Linked DNA regions of Homo sapiens: region 1 is linked to region 2. The links come from fine-mapping of genetic effects on gene expression. A gene starts in region 2. The other region holds a variant in brackets. All regions are shown on one strand. Distances are between the middles of the regions.

Evidence for each region.
Region 1: its variant is fine-mapped to the expression of FAM110C in whole blood (INTERVAL, PIP 0.98).

The regions. Positions count from the first base shown.
Region 1 is chr2:103,642-106,549 of GRCh38, forward strand. No RefSeq gene overlaps it. Among named protein-coding and RNA genes, the nearest start is that of FAM110C, 59 kb to the left of the region's middle. The variant G/T (reference allele first, on the strand shown) is at 1,363.
Region 2 is chr2:45,246-48,153 of GRCh38, forward strand. It overlaps FAM110C (family with sequence similarity 110 member C), which reads right to left and starts at 1,260. Exons shown (of 2, transcript NM_001077710.3): 1 at 195-1,260. The coding sequence starts at 1,140.

The DNA.
Region 1 (2,908 bases), 58 kb after region 2:
TACAAATACCATGATGTTTTGATTACTACAGGCTGGTAATACATTTTGAAGTCAGGTAATGTGATGCCTCCAGCTTTGGTGTGTTTTGTTTGTTTTTTCCTTTAGAATTGCTTTGGTTATTCTGGTTCTTTTGTTGGCTCCTTGTGAATTTTAGGATTGTTTTTCCTAATTCTGTGAAGAATGACATTGATATTTTAATAGGGATTGCTTTGAATCTGTGGATTGCTTTGGTCAACATTGTCATCTTAATGATATTAATTCTCCTGATCCCTGAACATGGGATGTTTTTCCATTTGTTTGTCCCATCTTCAATTTATTTCATTCATGTTGCCTAGTTTTTTTTTTTTTTGGTGGTTAAATTTATTCCTAGGTATTTTTTTGTAGTTATTGTAAATGGGATTGCCTTCTTAACCTCTTTCTTGCCTGGATCACTATAGGTGTATAGAAATGCTACTGAATTTTGTACATTGGTTTTGTATCAACCAACTTTACTGAATTCATTTATCAAATCTAAGACATTTTTGGTGGAGTCTAGGTTTTTCTAGATATAAGATTATATTATCAGCAAAGAGGGACACCTTGACTTCCTCCTTTTCAATTTAGATGCTTTTTATTTCTTTCTCTTGTCTGATTGCTCTGGCTAGTACTTCAGTACTATGCTGAATAGGAGTGGTGAAAGGGGGCATCCTTGTCTTGTTCAAGTTCTTAGAGAAAAGGTTTCAACTTTTCCCCATTCGGTATGAAGTAGCTATGGATTTGTAATAAATGGTCTTTATTATTTTGAGGTATATTATTTCTATGACTAGTTTGTCGAGAGTATTTTTCATGAAGAGATACTGCATTTTATCAAATGCTGTTTCTGCATCTATTAGAGATGATCGTATGGTTTTGGTCATTCATTCTGTTGATGTAAGGTATCATGTTTACCAATTTGCATATTTTGAAACATCCTTGCATCCCTGGGATAAATTCCACTCGATCATGGTGTATTATCTTTTTGATGTACTGTTGGATTCAAGCTGCTATTATTTTGTTGAAAATTTTTGTGTCTAAACTCACCAGAAATATTGGCTTGTAGTTTTCCTTTTGTGTTGGGTTTTTGTCTGATTTTGATATCAGGGTAATGCTGGCCTCATAGAATGAGTTATGGAGAATTCCCTTCTCTTTCATTTTGTGGAATAGTTTCAGGAGGATAGTATTATTTCTTCTCTGTAAGTTTGGTAGAATTTGGCAGTGAAGGCATTCAATCTTGGGCTTTTCTTTGTTGGATATGATGCTTTTATTACTGATTCAGTATTACTACTTATAATTGATCTGTTCGGGTTTTCTGTTTCTTTCTGATTCAATATTATATGTTTCCAG[G/T]CATTTATCTGTTTTCTCTGGGTTTTCCAGTTTGATGGCGTATAGTTGTTCATAATAGTCTCCAGCAATCTTTTTGTATTTCTGTGTTATCTGTTGTAAGTCTCCTTTTTCGTTTCTGACTTTGTTTATTTGGGTCTTCTCTCTTCTTTTCTTTGTTAGTCTAGCTGGAGGTTTATTAATTCTGTTTGTTTTTTTGAAGAATCAACTTTTCATCTTTTGATCCCTTGTATCTTTAGTCTCTATTTCATTTAATTCCGCTCAATTTTATTATTTCTCTTCTTCTAATTTTTGGTTTGGTTTGCTCTTGCTTTTTGAGTTCCTTGAGGTGAATTGTTAGATTGTTAATTTGTAATATTTCTCCTTTTTTGATATAAGAATTTATTGATATAAATGTCCCTTTTAACATTACTTTTCCTTTATCCAACAAGGTTTGCTATGTTGTATTTTCACTTTCATTTGTTTCAAAACATGTTTGATTTTCATCTGAATTTCTTCACTGACCCAATAGCCGTTCAGGAACATGTTGTTGAATTTCCATGTATTTGTATAGTTTCCAAAGGTCCTCTTGGTATTTATTTCTAGTTTTAGTCTCTTGTGGTCTGAGAAAACACTTGATTTAATTTTGAGTTTTAAAAATTTGTTGAGACTTGTTTTGTGGCCTAGAATATAGTCTATTGTGGAGAAGTTTCCATGTGCTGATGGAAAGAATGTATATTCTGCAGTTGTTAGGTAAAATGTTCTGTAAATGTCTGTTAGGTTCATTTGGTCTAAAGTACAGTTTAAATCCAATGTGTCTTTGTTGATTTTTTTTCTACATACTCTGTCTATTGTTGAGAATGGGATATTGAAGTCTTCCATGATTATTTTATTTCACTCTATCTCTCTCTTTAGATCTAGTAATATTTGCTTTGCAAATTTGGGTGTTCCAGTGTTAAGAACATATATATTTAGAATTGTTATATCTTATTGCTGGATTAATCTCTTTTTCATTATATAATGACCTTCTTTGTCTTTTTTTTTAACTGTTCTACCTTTAAAGTCTGTTTTATCTCATATAAACTTAGCTATTTCTTTTTTTCTCCAAAAAGAATGCTTTATTGAGAAATTACCCATTATTATAATAACGTTAAGGAAAAGATACATCAGTTACACCCATGCAACCTGCCTTCTCACTACATCCCACAGGCCGATTTTAATCTTGGACAAAGGGTACCGAGTGCTGGGGTTCCCCGGCCCCTGCATCTTCATTGTGTGTGGAGTGCCATCCCCAAGAGTGTCTGAAAAGTCCAGAGACATGGTTGTCAGAGGACACATGCTCTACCAAACAGAACACCTTGAACTGAGCAGCCCTTCCCCTCCTGGGAGTCACAGAGACATGTACACGACAGGCAAGCCCTCGTAAACTTAGCTATTTCTACTTGCTTTTGGTTTCCACTTGTGTGGAATATCTTTTTCCATCTCTTTATTTTCAGTCTTTATGTGTCTTTACTGATGAAGTGAGTTTCTTGTAAGCAGCACAAAATTGGATCATGCTTTTTAATCCATT
Region 2 (2,908 bases):
CCTTCTGCTCTTCAGCAGCGGGGGCTCAACTCACAAGCCTCTGCGTCAGTCTCTTGGGTCCCTTTCACACTGTAGCTCAAAATCGCACTCAATTCTAAGCAGCTGTAACTGGCCATCGCCCAGCTCGGTCACACTCACCAAGATTCACAGCCCCGCACACGGCCAGCCCCGCCCCCAGCCTTCTGGGCACACACCTCGGGTCCGGCTCTGCTCCTGGCTGGGGGTCTCCTTGGCCTTCTTACAGGTGTACAGCCACTTGATGATGCGGGCGTTCCTCTCGATGACCGAAGTGGTGCTGGGCACCTGCTCTATCAGCTCCTCCTCCTGCAGCCCCTCGTCGTCGCCGCCGCTGTGCCGGGAGAAGCCGCTGCCGGAGGTGGCGACGCTCACGCTGCGCACCTTGAGGGTCACACAGTCCGACCCCGCGGTGAAGTTCTCCCTCCCCAGGGCCTCCACCACCTCGGGGTCCAGGCCGCAGTACTGGAAGAAGGTGTCAGACTCGGCCAAGGCAGCGGAATAGCGGGAGCTGAGGTCCGACTGTGAGCGCTGCAGCCCCCGACGCCTCACCACCCGCGGCTCTGGCCCAGGGGGCGCGGCCGGGACACTGGAGGGCGCCGCGGACCGCGCGGCTGGGGCTGGGGTCTCGGGGATTGCGGGGTCCGCCGCGGGGCCAGGAGTGGTCGGGACCGTCTCCGGGTTCCCGGCCTTGCCCTCGTCTCCCGTCCGGGGCACCGGCGCCTTGTCCTTACCCGGCCCCTGGAAGAGCTTCTTCACCAGGCTTGCCCTGGGGCCGTCGGCGCCCGATCCTCGCACGAATTCGCATTTCTGCCGGTAGATGATCAGCGAGTCCGGTCTCAACGGCTTCCGCGCAATAGCCCTGCGCGCCACCGGGGCCGGGGCGCGGGCCGGGGGCCCAGGGTCGTTCCCCGGGCACTTGATCGCCCCCGGGCCGCTGCCCTCGGAAGCGACGCCCCGGCCAGTCCCCGGCCGACCCCGCACATACTTGGCGCGATCCGCCGCCAGCCTCTCCACTGCGCTCCTGCGCGCCGGCCGCGCGGCGTCGGGGTCCCGGGTAGCCGCGGGGTCCCGGGGAAGGAGCCGCTCGTTCGGGGGCGCGCTCAGGGCCGCCAGGGCGCGCATCTTCGCGGGGAATGGACCGACCGGGGTTCCGGGTCCAGCGGAGACGCGCTCGAGTGGTAGAGCCAGTCAGTCCCAGGGCCGGTTCCGAAGTCCGCGCCGGGTGGGGAACGGCGCCCCAGTGCCCAGCTGCCCAGGCCCGGGGTTGGGGAGAACCGGAGTCTGCACCGATTGGCGAAACTCCCCAGTTCCCGCCCCTCCCGACCTCATCGCCCACACCGACTGGCACCGCCCCCGCCCCCGCCCGGTGCCCCGGCCCTGGCCGCGTCCCCGCATCCCCGCTCGTCCCCGCCCGTCCCCGCCTCCTCACTCCCGCCCGGGCCCGCCTCCCTGGCCGCTCTCCGGGTGCCAGCGCCCGCCCTCACCTCGCGTCCGGGGTCCCGGCCCTCACCTCCTGCCCGGTGCCGTCCCCGCCCCCCCTCACCTTCCGGCGGCGCTGCCAACCGCCTGGAGGACGCTGGGGCGAGCAGGCTCTGAACCCCCACTCGCTCAGCCCCAGATCCCCGAGGTCACTGCTGGACGCAGGCATTTCCGGGGAGGGGGAGCAGAGGGGACGTCCCCCCACCTCCCCCGGGCAGGTGCCTCACATCCTTTGAATTCTTAAAGTGACCTCATCGTGTTTGGAAACTTGACTGTTTAATTTTGTCTACCTGAGCTCATATTCTTATTAACAGAAAGGAATAGGACATAAGAGGAAAGAACACGCAGCGCACGCCAGGATCAGCCTACGTGTTGGGTGGCAAGAACGCAGGGCCTCGGATTGGGTCCGACTCGGTCGCTGGCCGGCAGCGGGCGTGGCCGGGCCCGAGGACCGAGCTAGGACTCTCAGTGGGGCAGGCTGGGGCCCCAGGCGCGGCTCAGTGGATTTGGAAGAAGCCCAGCCAAGTGTCCAGAATCATTGCTATTTTTACGGTAACCGAGGCAACGGGGAAACCACGAGTTCACCAGGCAGTGGATCAGCCTAGGAATGCTAAGAGTCTAAGATAAAATACTTCCCAAACTCCATTATTTCAAAAATTTGGACAAAATACTAAAGTTATCTCTCAGACATGTGAAATGTTCACGTTATCGCGTTGTGAAGACAACTCCGTAACAGGCTGTGCTTTCAGCCTTGTGGTTGAACGCTCCGAGCAGCAGCAGCCCGGAAGGCAGGGAGGGCGACAGGTGCAGATGGGCCCCCAAAGTGGGCACGAACACCTCACCAACGAGGAAGAGGACCGCAGCAGGGTGGTGCTGAGTGGGCCTTGGGGGTCTTTAATCTCCTTGAGCCCCAGCGAAGCAAAATTTCATAGGGATAGTAGCACAACAATAAATCGCCTCCTGAAAGCCAGACCGCCCAGACAGCCTCGTTGGAACATGTAAGACTCATAGGAAAAGGAGTCTAGGCCAATAAAGTAGAGAGTGGGAGAAGAGAAGGAAGGATGCGGGGGTGGGGAGTGAAAGAGAGGGACAGAGATGGAGAAAGGGGGAGCTCCTGGGTTGCCACAGATGGTTTCCTACAGGATGCGGGAGGATGGGGCCTTGAGGTCTAAAGTCCAGCCTGCTCTCTGCTTGGCAAGCCTGTTCCCTAAGTCAGAGGAAAAAACCTTTTTAATTGTGTAGCCCAAAGTGTCTTCTTTTCCTAATTTGCACTACTTCATGGGCAACAGCAGCACTTCTAAGACAGAGAACTGCAAAGTACAGGACCTCTGGAATTTGACCCTGGGTCCACAATTTACCTTTGGACAGGTAACAAACGTTCCAGGTTGTTTTGTCACCTGTAAAAATTTCT